Linked DNA regions of Homo sapiens: region 1 is linked to region 2. Evidence: fine-mapped expression QTL. Tissue or cell type: whole blood. Region 2 holds a variant in brackets; the other region holds the start of a gene. All regions are shown on one strand. Distances are between the middles of the regions.

Evidence for each region. PIP is the estimated chance that this variant, and not a neighbour inherited with it, causes the effect.
Region 1: ZNF736 starts here. The variant in region 2 is fine-mapped to the expression of ZNF736 in whole blood (TOPMed, PIP above 0.99). The same link has a PIP of 0.9 or more in adrenal gland, aorta, atrial appendage, cerebellar hemisphere, esophagus mucosa and esophagus muscle.

The regions. Positions count from the first base shown.
Region 1 is chr7:64,309,644-64,317,750 of GRCh38, forward strand. It overlaps ZNF736 (zinc finger protein 736), which reads left to right and starts at 4,318. Exons shown (of 4, transcript NM_001170905.3): 1 at 4,318-4,510. The coding sequence starts at 4,508. It overlaps LOC105375322 (a long non-coding RNA gene), which reads right to left and starts at 833. Exons shown (of 5, transcript XR_927582.2): 1 at 1-833. RefSeq lists an enhancer at 4,371-4,550.
Region 2 is chr7:64,682,325-64,690,431 of GRCh38, forward strand. All of the region lies in intron 1 of ZNF107 (zinc finger protein 107), which reads left to right. It also overlaps the pseudogene BNIP3P11. Among named protein-coding and RNA genes, the nearest start is that of MIR6839, 7.3 kb to the left of the region's middle. The variant G/A (reference allele first, on the strand shown) is at 4,919.

The sequences.
Region 1 (8,107 bases), 370 kb before region 2:
TGAAAGCCAAAACCTCAATTTTATATTCTTTTTGGATTTTACATAAATGACATTATATAGTATGTATACTTTTACATATACTTTCTTTTGTACATCATATTTGTAATATTCATCAATCCTGCTGTAGATATGTAAGTACTGAGATTACAGGCATGAGCCAACGTGCTCAGCCTAAAATATTTTAGGAGGTTAAGGTGGGAGGATCACTTGTGGCTGGGAATTTTAGACCAGCCTGGGCAATAGAGTGAGACCCTCTCTCTACAAAAAAATTAAAAATTAGCCAGGCACGGTGGCATGTGTCTGCTATTCCAGCTACTCAGAAGACTGAGGCAGAAAGATCAGTTGAGCCCATAAGTTCAAGGCTACAGGAAGCAATGATTGCACTCCTGCACTCCCATCTGGGTAACAGAGCAAGACTCTGTCTCTTAAAAAATAATATAAAAATTTAAAATAATTTTATACATTATGTTAAAATACACATAAAATTAACTATTTTAACCATTTTAAAGGTTTCCATTGAGATGAATTAAGTACACTCATTATTTTGCTACCATCATTTCCATATATAAAAAGCATATTCCATTTTTTGAAACTGAAACTGTACCCATTAAACAACTCCTTATTCTCCCTGTAGCCCCTGGGAAACACTCTCCTACTTGGTGTTTTCTATGACTTTAACTACTCTTAAGTACCACATATGAGAAGAATCATATAGTAAAGAAATCATGAGGAAGAATGATAAAAAATGTATCACATGCTTATTAATTTTCAATAAAAACACCAACAGAGATCAGTAGTACCTGTTGATTATAAATAAACAGATAAATGAGAAAAAGGAATTGGCAGTGTGCATTGTATTTATGACAATGGGGCCTCAAGTACCATAGCAGTGAGTCCTCTGCCCCAGGCACAGGGCTGGTCAGTGGTGGAGCTGGAAGCCCAGTGTAGCTGTCTGACACCCGGATCCCATGCCTAACCCAAATGTCACTGAGCCCTAAGGCACTTCGCTCCTGCTGGTCCAGGCAGTGTCCCCTAAGATTCATCATGGCATGTTCTCCATGGCCTTAAGGAGTTGCTGGCCTACTGGGATAAGCGATCCAGCTGGCAGGACAGGTTGTAGCTACAAGTCATAGAGGCAGATGTGAGGTCTCTATGTAGGAGTCACACCCCTAGTCTCCTTCCCAGTGCCTGCCCAGCTGGAGTGCTGGGCCCCCGGGGTCACCATGCAGCAGGGCCTGACACTGACCAGGGAGCCATGGCCACAGGCTCTTGGCAGCTGGCCCAAAATAAATATTCTCCATAACCTCTGCCGATCTGCTGGACCCTCACCTCTCAGTCTCACTGAGCCACTCCGTTAACTGGAGGCAGACCCAAAATTGCTCCACAGGCTGAAGGTGATAATTGTCTACAGCCAGCTGAAGCAGCTGCATCTCCTGGAGAACTTTGATCTCCTGCAGCTAAAGGGGGGGACAAGTGGAAGATGCGGATAGGAGGGTCCAGGAGACAGGGGATTATGAGATTTCAGGGGACAGGCCTCGAAGGGACACCCAAAAGTGAGTAGTCATCCCCATCACCACCCGACAGCACAGGGTGTTGCCTCCATCCTGGACACATTTTCCAGTTATCTGGTGATGGGAAACCCTGCCAGAAAGGATTATATGGATGGGAGTGAGCCTGGGATGGGCAGGGCTGGAACCAGAATCCTGAGGCTTGGGAGAAGAGAATCAGGACTACACCCTTAGATCTCAGCACTTGGCAAACTTCCTCTCATGAGAGCGTCACGGCTGCCTCTGTGAGCTGAGGTATCAGGCCCCTCTTCCCTATGAATGTTGAAGATTCCACACCAGCCACCAGTCCCTGTTCCCTGAGTGATGAAGCTGCAGAGCTGTCTGCTTGCAAAGCCCAGTGAGGTTTTGCCTGAGCTGGACTCAGACTCTCCCTCAGATGGTGCCAATGGAAGGATAGTAAACTTAGGCCTCTCCAAGGGCAGGCAGCTCGTATGTGGCTGAGCACTTTTGTTTTTTGTTTTTTGGTTTTTTTTGAGATGGAGCCTCCTCTGTCACCCAGGCTGGAGTGCAGTGGCATGATCTTGGCTCACTGCAAACTCCGCCTCCCAGGTTCAAGCAATTCTCTGCCTCAGCCTCCTTAGTAGCTGGGATTACAGGTGCCCACAACCACGCCCAGCTAATTCTTGTATTTTTAGTAGAGACGGGGTTTTGCCATCTTGGCCAGGCTGGTCTTGAACTCCTGACCTGGTGATCCACCATCCTCAGCCTCCCAAAGTACTGGGATTACAGGTGTGAGCCACCGTGCCTGGCCTGGCTGAGCACTTTTTTAAATGGGAGCCCTCAGTTTTTATGTCTGTCATCAAAGAGAGTTGGGGTGGGAGGTCCCTGAGCCTCAGCTCCCATTGTCCCCTTTGAACCCCAGAACCTGCTGCAGACCCAAGTCCTGCTTTGTGCACATCCCCTGCCCCTGGTGGCCCTGGCAGTAATGCAGTATGAAGAGTGTGGGGAGGGGACCTAGTCAGGGTCCAAGGGGCCTTTCTGATGACCATTGGCTGACTTCTAGGGAAATGTAACACCCAGAAAGAAAAGGAAGGTGAGCAGCTGGGGCAACATTGGGAGAGAGTGGGGAGGTGAAAGTCAGCAACACCCTGTGCTATCAGGTGGTGATGGGGATGAGTATCCACTTTTGGGTGTCCATTCAAGGCCTGTCCCTGAAATCTCATAAGCCCCCATCTCCTGGACTCTCCTATCCACATCTTTTACTTGAAAAAGCCAAAGACACGCAGCTGCCTCTCTCCAACTCTCTCCCCTCTTCCTAGCTGGCCTCCAAAAACATGAAGCACTCCCTTATTAACTCTGTGGTGAGATTTTAACAAGTCACAATGTTATGTGGTCCCTAGCTCCACCGTTTCCCAAATCCACTCAGCCCAGCTCTTCCAGGCCTTTACTCTGATTTCTCTTATAGAGGCATTTCAGGGACTGTTGCCACAGGAGGGAAGGGCTGAGGGAGAAAGGCCCCTTGCTCTTTTGATGTGGAGGCCTCCAGCTGGGAGGGAGGAGCTCTTCCCTCTGAATCCCTGGAGCTCTTCCCCATCACAGGTACCTGCCTTTTTGCTGCTTTAGCCTCATCTGGGCTTTCTGTGGTTTCTTCTCTAGGGTGGCCAACTTGGGTGTCTTCCTCTGCCAGGGTCAAGGACAAGGTCAGTGATATTATGCTCCCTTCACCCAGTTATGCCCAGTTACATTGACCTGGTACCCTGGATAACTGGTGTGAGTCAAGCTGGTCCAGTGCTCCTGCCACCTCCAGTAAACTCTGATTCTAGATTCACTCCCTGCTGCAACACTCACTGTGTGTGGAACCTTGGGCATGCAGCCAGGCCTCCCTGAGACTGTTTCTCAACTTGAAAGTGTGATGGGAACCACACCTACCTCACTGGGCCTCGTGAGGACTCAGTTATATGTAGCCGTCACCATTGTTCTCATCATCATCTCTCTCAGGAAGAGCCAGGCACAAGCACTCTCAAATTTTTCTCCTTTGAAGCTCCTCATTACCCTGTGAGGCTCATCATCCCTACATTTTTTAGATAAGAAAACAGAGGCCCAAAGAGGGCAGTGACTTGCCCAGGGCTCTACAGAAGAGGCCGGCTCCTCCCCACACCTGGAGGCCCTGACCTAGCTGACTTTACCCCACAGCCCAGCACTATCCCTGACTAGGGTCCCATCTTGGTTCTCCATGCTTGTTTAGGTCCTCAGGCAGGCTCAGCTTTGGTGGGAAAGAGACAGGGTGTTTTGGGAGGCCTGGGCGAGTGGCACCTCTAACCAATCTGCTAGGCCCTCACCTCTCAGTCTCACTGAGACACTCCATTAATTGGAAGCAGACCCAAAATTGCTTCACAGACTGAAGGTGATAATTGTCTACAGCCAGCTGAAGCAGCTGCATCTCCTGGAGGACTTTGATCTCCTGCAGCTAAAGGGAAAGACAGGATGCTGAGACAGGGCCTGCAGCATACACATAACTATAATTCAGAATGTAATATATACACACACACGAAAATATAATCAGAAAGTGATATAATCTTATATGCAAGGTTAAATACAAATGTCTCTCAGGCAGGGCCAGGCCCCCAGCACAGGGAGGACTCGCCTGAAAACGCTGCAGGCAAAAACCTGTCACCCTTGCCTCATTCAGCCCAGTGTCTGATTACATCTTCTGTCACTTAGGATTGAAACGGGTGGGGCCTGGAGCCCTAGCCAATCAGTGGCGCCAGCGTGAAACTGTCCAATCAAGTGCGCAGCTACAGAGGAAGAGGCGGCCTCTTCAATATGGCGGGGCCTTTGTCTCCTAGCTTCCGGGCTCTGATCCTAGTTCGCGTCTCCACTGTTCCATCTCCTCCGTTCCTGGAGTTCCTCGGTGACTCTACTATAGCTTCTGTTATCCTGTGACCTGCAGGTACTGGGAGATCCATAGGGAGGACGGCGGAACATCTGGAGGCTGGGAAATGGTGAGTGCGTGGAGTGGGTGTCCCGAGAATGGGGAAGAGGCTGTTTGAATCCGGCCGGAACCGGCTGCGGTGGTATCTGGGCCTTCTCGCGGTCTGCTCTGGAGTCTGCATCCCCGAGTCCCCGCGGGCACAGCTCAATCCTCATTTCCCTCCATCGCAGATTAGGGGCTGAGCCAGCAGCCAAAACGCTACGTCTTGTTTTGTCCCTAAACTCGAATTTCTCCCCAGCTCAGATCCCTTCCTGGGCAGCTCTGTGCCGCAACCTCGAGTCTCCCTCCTCCAGATTGTGTGGGGGTGTTGGGAGTGTCATAAGACGGGAATTCTCATTTAGGGTCTGGAGTTCCTCCGTGGAAGAAGCAGTGGGCCGTGGGGTCCCTAGTCCCTCCTTTCTCCTTTTAAAAATAAAATCATGGCCCTTTTTTAAATTTATTTATTTTTGAGACAGTGTCTCACTCTGTTGCCCAGGCTAAAGTGCATTTCGGTTCACTGCAGCCTCCACCTACTGGGCTCAGATGATCCTCTCACCCCAGCCCCCCAAGTAGCTAGGACTAGAGGGGTGCGCCACCACGCCTATTTTGTTTTGTTTGTTTTTGTAGAGACAGGCTTTTGCCATGTTGCTCAGGCTGGTCTCGAACTCCCCGAGCTCAGGTCTCAGGTGATCCGCCCGCCTCGGGCCTCCTAAAGTGCCGGGATTACGTGCATGACCCACCACCCTAGCCTAAATTGAGGCAACTTTAGGATATAATTTGGATGTGTTTTCCAGCCCAAATCTCCTATTTAAATGTAATCCCCCATGTTGGAGGTGGGGCCTGGTGGAAGGATTGTGGGCCCGGATTTCTCACGAATAGTTTAGCACCATTCCTCTTGGTATTGTCCTCTCAATAGTGAGTGAGTTCCCTGAAGTTCATCATTTAGAAGTGTACAGCACCCCACCTTGCCTCTTTTTCAAGCTCTTGCTTCACCTTCATCCATGATTTTAAGCTTTCTGGGTGGGGCCTCCCCAGAAGCAGACGCTGGTGTTATGCTTTCTATGCAGCCTGTGGAACCATGAGCCAATTAATCCTCTTATAAATTACCCAGTCTGAGGTATTTATAGTAATGCCAGAAGCGATTAATACAAATAGTTTACTTGCACAAACAGTAATTTATCAATCAGAGAACACCCAGCTATGATTTGTTGTTTGGGGGCTCAAAGGAGGGTCTTGGAACAAAAGGTTGTTTTTTTTTTTTAAGAGGTATGAGGAAGCAAACCAGATTCAATATTTGATTGGTTACAGTTACGTATTGCATTTGCAGCCCTCCGGTGGAAATGTCCTGGTTATGTAATTAGAGCTTTTTATTGGCAGCTTGTGGTTGGTTAAGCCTAAGTTGTTTTGTTGTTGTTGTTGTTGTTTCTCAAAGTTAATAATTTACCAGAAATTCCTTCGACGTAGTTAGGTTTCCTTAGGCAGAATCCCAGGGCACCATGGCCACTTCAGCCTAATTGCTAGCTATTTAATTATTTTAATGCTCCACAGGGTCGTTGGTTTTCTCTGCATTTTTCAAATGTTTGGCAAGCAGGGTCTCAAATCTAAAACTGTTCTCCCAGCCTAACTGTTCTAGGGACTGTATAAAATTCTAAATTTCCAATTTCTTTCCCACATTCCCAAATGCCAACTATCCCTCTCCAAATCACATTATGAACTATCAGTTCTTTATTTAATTTTAAAACGGATGTGGCATTTTGTTTATTTTTGTTTAACAGAGCCGTGGGTGGCTCTTTTTAATATATTAGTCTGTTTGTGCATATTTCACAGGACAGAAAAGCAAAGAGTAGTCACCTGACACTGCGCATCTCCTCTCATCTTCTCTAGGCACGCGCGCCTTCCCAGAATGTCTTTGGATCCTTTGCAGGGTGATGTGTCCTCAGTCACTCTCCTGTGTTTTCCTGGTCCAAGTATTACAGCTTTCTGGGGATGATCCAAGATACCCACAAGGACCATATCTCTTGGAGTGTCTAGCAAACATTAGCCCCTGGGTCATCTCCTTTCAGAGAAGAGCCTGAGGCATTGGGTGGAGCCTCTCAGGGGAGCAGCTGGATGCCCTCGTGCTGAGAGCAGTTTCCTGATTCACCCTTCCTCTAAAAAGCTAACTGCTTTAACATTAAGATTTTTTTCCCCTCAATCCTAGTTTTCATTTCTTGCAGACACATTGGTGGTCAACCAATCAGGTGCTGATATTGAGGGGAAAAGGCACAAATGCATCTTGCCCTCTGGTTTCTCTCAGGCTTGTGAAGGAGAATAACTGTCCCAAAGTACAGGAAAGATCCACTCTAGTGAGGGAGTGTATAAATTTGCAAAGCAAAATACACATCTGCCACACAGGGGGCAAGTGCAGTATCTTTTGGGAGAGTGATGATCAAGTACTTTAGTGAGCAGAATGGGGGTGGGAGAATCTCTCAAGTGATTGACACATGAGTCTAAAACATTTGTGTTCCAGTCAGCACTACTTCTCCCTGTGTTTGTCACCTTCAATATATATGTTCAGTTATTTCAACTTCAGTTTTTCATTAATTGTATAATGGATTTTATCATTAGAGCTTGAAAGATTAAAAAAAAAATTTTCTAAAAGAAAAGAGGTAGATTTTAGAAAAAAATAGTTTATATTCCATTGGTTGAAAATTCTCATTTACCTTTTATATTTCCCACAGTGAGTGTAGTAAGATTCCGCGTCTGTTCTATTTAGCATGATTTCAAACAGAATCCCAGGGCTTAGCTTTGGGAATGCTACCTGGGAAAAGACAGAGGAAATGTCTCTCTCATGATGCCTGCAGAAAAATAAATACATTTCTACAAGAAAGTGTGGTAGATTAACACGTAAATTACAAAACATTCATGAAAACATCAGTTTCTCTCTTGTGCAGGGTGGAGAATTTGTGACAGTGGCCAACTCATTTTTTTAAAAAATTTCTACTTTGTAGGAAGTATTTATGTGTACACAATAAAAAGATATTTCCCACCATACATACATATCTTTGCTCAGGTAATATATGTAACCTAAAGCAATATGATTGTCTAGTATAATCGTAGCCAGTGAATCAGTAGCTTTTTTTTGAGCTGCAATGGATGTAACAGTTTTATCAGTAATTTTTTCTAAGCTTATAAAAATATTTTTAATCATGTGTTCATGGGAGGTGACACCTCACCAAGGCAAAAACATTTTTTTCCAATAAAATGAATGAAGCTGTTTTTTGAAAGCCAGGCAGATAATTAGCAGATTTTTTTCAAATAGAATCTTAATCTAAAACAGATTGGTGGCCATGCCTGTGGAAAAGTTAGAGAGAATTTGTCCAGTACTGGGTTTTTTCAGAGCTATGTAGAGAGAGCAGTGACCAGATATTTTAAAAGACATTACCCTTCAATTTAGTGGCACAGGTACTGGCCAAGAAAATCTAATATGGTTCCTTCCAACAAATTTGGAGTAAATCTTCTTCATAAAAGTAGAAAATCAAATTTTATTTTTATATTATTAATATTAAAGCTAACCTTAGGAAAGCATTATAAACAGATGTATTCAATCTCAATCAGCTTTGACCATACAAGATTTCTGTAAACCTTT
Region 2 (8,107 bases):
AAAACAGCAGCTTCTCTCCTTCCTAGGCATCATTGGGTACTTCCACCTCTAGGTACCTGGTTTTGCCCTCTTAACAAAACCCCTTTATAAGCTTACAAAAGGCAACCTAGCTGACCCCATAGACCCCAAACCTTCCCTCATTCATCCTTTCACTCCCTGAAAAAAGCTCTTGAGACAGCCTCCTCACTGGCGTTCCTCGACTCCACCCAGCCCTTCTCTCTACATGGCAGAGGTAAAGGGATGTGCAGTTGGGGTCCTAACACAAGGGCCAGGCCCACGACCAGTGGCCTACTTATCTAAACTTGACCTCACAGTCCTAGGCTGGCTGCCCTGTTTACATGCTGCAGCGGCCACTGCCCTAATACTCCTAGAATCCCTCAAAATCACTGGTTACACCCCAGTTACCCTCTATAGCGCTCACAACCTCCAGAGTCTCATTTCTTCCTCTCACCTCACACAACTACTCTCCTCCCATCTCCTCCAGCTTTATTCACTCTTTATTTTAAACCCCATGCTAACCATTGCTCTTGGACCCAGTTTCAACCCAGCCTTTCACTTAGCACCCAACACATGTCCTGAGCCACATGACTGCATCTCCTTAATACACATGGCATCCTCCCCCTCTCCTCACATTTCTGTTTTTCCAGTCCCAAACCCAGATCACACTTGGTTTATTGATGGTAGTTCTTCAAGACCCAACCAATTTTCGCCAGCCAAGGCAGGTTATGCTATTTGTTGTGTCCCACACATCTGTTATCGAGGCTGCTGCACTTCCACCCTCCACCACCTCTCAGCAAGCTGAACTAATTGCTTTAACTCACGCTGTCTCTCTCTAAGGGAATGCACGTCAATATTTATACTGATTCCAGGTATGCTTTCCACATCCTTCATCACAGTGCTGCCATCTGGGTGGAAAGAGGTTTTCTAACCACACAAGGGTCTTCCATTATCAATGCCTTTCTCATAAAGGCCCTCCTTAAGGCTGCTCTTCTGCCAGCCAAGGCTGGAGTTGTCCACTGCAGAGGATGCCAAAAACCAACAGACCCTATCACTAAAGGAAATGCCCATGCCAGTAAAACAGCAAAAGAGGTGGCAAACACCTCAGTGTCTGCAGACGTTCCAGTCTCTGCTCCAAAAGACCAGTATATTTCTTTCTCATCTATTATCCCTACCTACTACTCTTCTTCTGAAAACCTGCTCTGCTAGTCCTTTCCAACTCACAAGGCAAGTGGTTCTTAGATCATAGAAAGTTCCTTCTTCCTGCCTCACAAGCGCAATCTATTCTCTTATCCCTCCATGACCGCTTCCATGTAGGATACAAGCCTTTGGCTCGCCTCCTAGAGCCCCTTATTTCTTTCTCATCATGGAAGTCCGTCCTTAAACAATCACTTCTTAATGTTCTGTCTGCCACTCCAAGGTTTTCTTAGGCCCCCTCCTTCCCCAGCACATCAGGCCTGAGGGTTTACTACTACACAAGATTGGCAAATTGACTTCACTCATATGCCTCGTGTCAAAAAATATAAGTACCTCCTAGTTTGGGTTGATACCTTCACCAGATGGGTCGAGGCCTTCCCTACTGGATCTGAAAAGGCTGCAGCAGTTTTTACCTCTCTTCTAACAGATATTGTTACCTGTTTCGGCCTCCCTACTTCCATCCAATCTGACAGTGGTCCAGCCTTCATTAGCCAAATCACCCAGGCAGTTTCCCAGGCCCTTGGCATCCAGTGGAATCTCCACACCCCATACCATCCTCATTCCTCAGGAAAGGTTGAAAGAGCCAACGGCCTCTTAAAAACTCACCCTCCAACTCCGAAAGGACTGGACTGTTCTCCTACCACTTGTGCTTCTCAGGATCTGAGCCACCGCCCATGAACCTACCAGGTATAGCCCATTCGAACTCTTATATGGTAGTACTTTTCTACTGGGGCCCAACCTCATCCCAGACACCAGTCCTCCAACAGGCTAGGAATGAAATCTGTCAGGCTGCTAACCTTCTTTTACCCACCTCAGATACCCAGCCATATGAGGACACTCTGGCCAGACAGCCCATCCTGATAAAGAGCTTAACCCCCTGATCTCTACAACCTCAGTGGACAGGACCCTTCCTGGTCGTTTATGGTACCCCAATGGCTGTCTGCTTACAAGATCCTCCTCAGTGGATTCACCCTTCCAGAGTAAAGCTGTGTCCATCTGACACTCAGCCTGACCCTTCTTCCTCCTCTTGGAAGTCGCAAGTACTCTCCCCGACCTCGTTAAAACTCACCGAAATCCCTGAAGAAACTTAAATGTCCTGCTCCTGTCCGCCCTGCTTCTTCACCCTCTTCCTCCACTCTATTTGCCAAGACATCTCCTGGTTTCATCCCCAAACTCCCACCTTAGATTCTCTCTTAAACTGGATAGATGATCTCATCTTTTAGGGCACTCTGTATAACTTCTTCCCAGATGAGACGCCTCTGTTTACCTTCCTACTCACTCTTTATCTATCCCTCCTGCTCCTTTGGCTACCTGGCATGGCCGCACTCCCACTTCCAGTAATGCCTAATTACCTCTACAAAACTCTCAACCCACTCTCTGTTAAACCAGTCCAACCCTTCTTTGGCAAAGGACGCTGGCTTTGCATTTCTCTATCAGCTACCACTTACGTTGCCACTCTCATTCCCACAAAAAACTGGGTAGTTACTAGCTTAACCTACCACCCTCGTAATGAAGGAAAAAGCCCCTTCTAACTCCTACATATGCAGTCATTGGCCAACTTCTCCATCAATGAAATGACCGAAAATACCCTGACAGGTCGTGCAGTTCAACTTTTACGCTCCTACATGTCCAGCCTCACCCATTACACAAGTAATGAAAAGCCCATACACGGCCCTGTGACTACAAACGCTGTCTTAACTTTCCAAGCCCCTTTATGCATCCAACACAACCTGTCATCAGGCCTACCTCTAGGTCACCTACTGTTCCATCAGTGCAACTACGCCTTGCAGCTTCAAGCCCCAACTGACTGTATTAACTTCCAGGTCTCCCAAACAGCTACATTCAAACAGCCTGTCCGCTTCTCAAAGCCCCCAGAAGTCATCAGCACCTCTCTGCTTAACAAACAATCCGGGTTTTGTAATGGCAGGCATACGCACTGCATGACCATTCACCCCTGGACCTCCTGCAGCAGCACTCCCACCACTGACGAATGCCTCCTTATCCCCTCTTTCGATTACCCTTCTGAGTGGCTCCTAGTAGATACAAAATGATTTTTCCTCCAATGGGAAAATAAAACACAGGGAGCCACTCAGCTTATCCCAAACATCCCTTTTCAGCCGCTCACTGGGGCCGCCTTGGCAAGTACCCTAGGGGTGTGGGAAAATGAAAACAAATTCACACACCTTTTTAACATACACAGCCAGTTCTGCCTACCCAGCCAAGGCATATTCTTCTTGTGTGGAACTTCAACCTATGTCTGCCTCACCACTAACTGGACAAGCACCTGTACCCTAATCTTCCTAAGCCCCAAAATTGACATTGCCCCTGGAAACCAAACCTTACCAGTCCCTGTCAGAGCCCAAGTCCATCAGCATAGGGCTGTGCAGATAATACCCTTGCTTATAGGACTAGGAGTTACCAATGCCACAGGAACTGGAATAGCAGGTTTGTCCCCTTCCCTGTCCTACTATCATACACTCTCAAAGGATCTCTCAGACAGCCTACAAGACATAGCAAAATCCACCCTTACTCTCCAATCCCAAATAGACTCCTTAGCAGCAGTAACTCTGCAGAACCACCGTGGCTTAGACCTCCTAACCGTCGAAAAAGGTGGGCTATGCACCTTTTTAGGGGAAGATTGTTTTTCCACCAACCAGTCTGGACTAGTACGAGATGCTGCCTCGCAGTTAAATGAAAAGGCTTCTAAAATCAGACAATGTCTTTCAGACTTTTAACACCAATCTTTGGAGCTGGGCGTTGTGGCTTCTCCCTATAGCTGGGCCCCTCATTTCCATCATTCTCCTTCTCCTATTTGGACCCTGCCTCTTCCGTCTAGCCTCTCAGTTCCTACAAAATCTCATTCAAGCTATTACCAATCAATCTATGCGACAAATGCTACTCCTAACTGCCCCTCAATGTCACCCCCACCCCAAGATCTCTCTCCCAATTAGGAGTCCATGCCGCCCCAAGTCCCGCTCGAAGAATCCCTGAGAAACATCACCCCGTCCACTTCTTTTCTTATTAAAACAAAAAGACAGGAATGTCATATCCCACAAATATGGCTGCATTATTGCCAGCAGGCCATTATTGACGGTGGGCCATTAAGAACTCTGTGACCAGCACATATGCCTCCAGACTTCCTGGAACCAGAAAACCTGCAACAACCAAAAACCACAAAAGAAGAACAACGGGTTTCTGTTCCAACTGGTTGATCAACTTCTTGAGTCAACAAGTCCCAAAACCATGTTGTAATTTTCCACCCGCCACTTTGCCCTGTAAAGACTGCTCTCCCTCACACCTCCGGGCTGACTCCCTTTTCCGATTCAGCCCACTAACACCCAAGTGAATAAACGGCCTTGTTGCTCACACAAAGTCTGCTTGGGTCTTCAATCCAGACCACGCTGTAACACACACTTACAAAATTCTGCTGAGAATATGCCCCCCGTTATTCATAATGCTCATGTTTTTCATACTGAGGGTAGCTGTGCACTTTGGGTTTTTACAGAGAAATGTGTTTTAGGGGAAGTTTTTCTGGCTGACTTGTTCAATCATATCTAATCTGAGTTTTTTTCTTAAGATGCTTTTCTTTTTTTTTCCCTCTCAATATAATCATTTTCAGAGTGAGCTGTTTTTCTCTTGAATGCATTGGGTGTCTGTTTTGGAAGCCCTATTACTATCCCATGGTGTCTGTTAATGAGGTGGGCTGTCATAGTGAGAACTCTTG[G/A]AGCTATCTCTATATGGACTCATGCTGGAAATCCAGCAGAGTGATTTCCATGTCACCATTACAAATAAAAAACTGAGGCTTAAACACTGCACCCATTCCCATTATTGTGAAGGTGCAATTCTACCCAGGAGGCCTGCAGGCTCTCCTCCTGCAACTCAGGCTTCATTCTCTGATGTGGCATTGAAGTGCTGCTGTGGCAGTTGGGGTTATATATAGGGTGCCAGGTGTGAGCTGTGTGCTGGGGGCTCTGCCTCAGTGGCAGATGGTAGGAGTCAAGAGAGGACACAAGCTACCAGGAGACGGCAAGCAGGAGGCACCTGGCTTTAAGTTGCAAAATTACCTTTTGTCATGAAGATGTGAAAAGTGTATTTTGTCATTGATTATAACCAATTAGCATATATGGATGACCTCCCAAATTACCAGGTGAATTTATGATGAACTATGTATGACATGTGCTGTAAATTTTTCTACTTGTGGACTAATTATTGTGACCGTCTTTCTGTCTTTGCAATCTCTTAAGCAGATTGACTGTGATGCATGTCACATTCTGGTTGAATTGTGTAATAAAACAGCTTTCTTTCTGTTCTATCATTGTGGAGTTACTCTGGAGCTGGAGAAAATTTTTCTTTTATTTATATTTTCCAAACACTGTCTAGAATTACCACACATGATATAAACATATAAGGTGCCAACCAAGCTTTAATCCAGAGGAGGCTTTTCCTTTCAGGCTTCCAGTCAACTCACAATTGTGCTGCAAAATGCATGCTGTCCCCTAAATATGCAGGCAGAATTGTGTCTCTGTCTATTTGGTGTTATAGTCCTCTACAGTCACCTCTAGAGAGCTAGGCCAGATTTCTACATACTTCACAGGGCAGCAGTTAACCATTTTACCTCTTTCAATGACTCTTGTATCTTTAGACCAGAAACTGCTTCAGAGATCATGGGACCCAGAAACCCAGAGTAACGTGTGCCTTAAGTAGACATGAGAATCTCCATATTTTTTCCCTTCCTCCTCTTTTTTTTTTTTTTTTTGACATGGGTTCTCACTCTGTTGCCCAGGCTGGAGTGCAGTGGCATGATCTCGGCTCACTGCAACCTCCACCTTCTGGGTTCAAATGATTCTTCTGCCTCAGCCTCCTGAGTAGCTGGGATTACAAGCACGCACCAAGACGTACAGCTAATTTTTGTATGTTTAGTGGAAGGGGGGGTTTCACCATGTTGGCCAGGCTGGTCTCAAACTCATGACCTCAGGTGATCTGCCTGCCTCGGCCTCCCAAAGTGCTGGTGTTACAGGTATGAGCCACCACACCCAACCCCTTCTTCCTCTTCTTAAAATACCCACAAATGTGTGGATGACACCTACTGCTACTGCACCCATCCAGGAACTAAATTTGCAGCTCCAAATTCTGAATCAGGGTCTTAAGATTTGGGAAAAAATAAAACCTTTTATCTGAGAAATGCAAATTCTTTTAGTTATAAGGTTCAGAGACATTAAAATAATACCACAATTATGTATTTCTCTGTTCTTTGAGCTAAGAATTTATCTCTTGAAACTGCTTGCTATTGCCACAAGTAGGTATAAATTAAACTAATAATGACACACTGGATCCTGTAACCCACACCCTATAGCTTAACAATGTTTATCCAATCAATAATCAATCTTATTTTTTTGTAAACAAATGAGAGTTTCTGACAAACAACTTTGTATCAGCCCACCCTCTTTCCCTCTCTTTTTGCCTTTACAAATCCACTTGCAGCTGCGCTAATCAAAGTGTAGATTCCTGGCAACATGAATCTTTGATCCCAGGTTACAATTCCCAATCTTGGCTCAAATAAACTCTCTACTTATATTCATGTAGCTTCAGCTTTTTCCTTTCAAGTAGACATATTATTTAGAATGTGCTAGAGCAGCCTCTATGAGGCGATCTCTCCTTTGGTTGTGCTCCACTTGCTGTAACACCCAAAAATGCAGAGGCAGGCTGCTCCCACCTAGAATCTGTACATAAGGTCTGGCCTCTCCCTGGAATTTACAAGACAGGGCCAGACTCTGGTTTGAGAAAGTACAGAAAACCAACAGGAGACATTTTCTGCATTGTGAGATGTCAACATAGACATCTTAAAGCTTCCCTTTGAGAGTGTTGCTCTTAGAACTTTTCAGATCTTGTTCAGTGACCTGCTACAGTTATGTGAGAGGATCCAGGTGTAAATAGAATCTGATGACAGATTCTGTAAGCGTAAACAAGCATCTTAGGGGTGAGAGATGAAGGCCACAAAGTATCGAGAGTCATGATCACAATTATACCTACCCGTAAAATGTAATACTGGACTAGAGTATTTTTTCTTTCCTTTTGCCCAAGAGCTAGCTAATTAGGACCCGTAATCTGGAGCTCCACTGTGGCAGTTCCACTTTCTATTTAGAATCAGCCTGAGTCTCTCCTGCCTGCCTTATCCTTGGCCATCAGCCCAGGGTCACTGGGAACTCTCTCACAATCACCTAGGCATCTTTGAGATATTTGAGGATGTCCAGAGCAGAATTGTGTCAGGTTGACAAGAGTGGTTAATTCTGCCTCTGTCTCAGTGTAAGAGAAATGAGACATCCTGTGTTTGCTCCTCCCCTCATACAAGAGATGTCTTTGGTTGGTATCCAGTTGAGAGTTTCCCAGTTTCCTGATAGTTGGATGAAAAACAAGGAGGAGGTCTGGAGACTCAAGCAGATAAACTAATTGCTACCATTTCATATGGCCCTTAGAAAAATAGATAAAGCAGTCATGGTCCCTACCATCTAGGAACTGTTAGTCTAGACTAGCAACTGAATACGTGGTTGAATTAAGCATCATATGGTTGGCAAAGTGAATAGATGTGTGGGAAAACGTGTGGGCTTTATTTGGGCCACTTTCTTTATATCGTTGTGACTTCTGAGGTCATCATTTGAATGAATGTTTATGACCACAAGAGTTTTAAATATTTTTATTTCTTTTACTTTGCTAAGAATACATATTTATCTTATAATAAAATTACCCTAGAAAACCCCAGGAGATTTGTTTAAATGGCTAATTAGTATATTTACACAGTTGATGGGTTGAGCAGAGTAATATATAGGGTTTACTCCCAGCTGCAGTTCTGTTCAGATTCACCCTTTTTGGAGGCTTTATTTAGGTCTGGCCCCACCCTGGAGTCTTGCCTCACAGA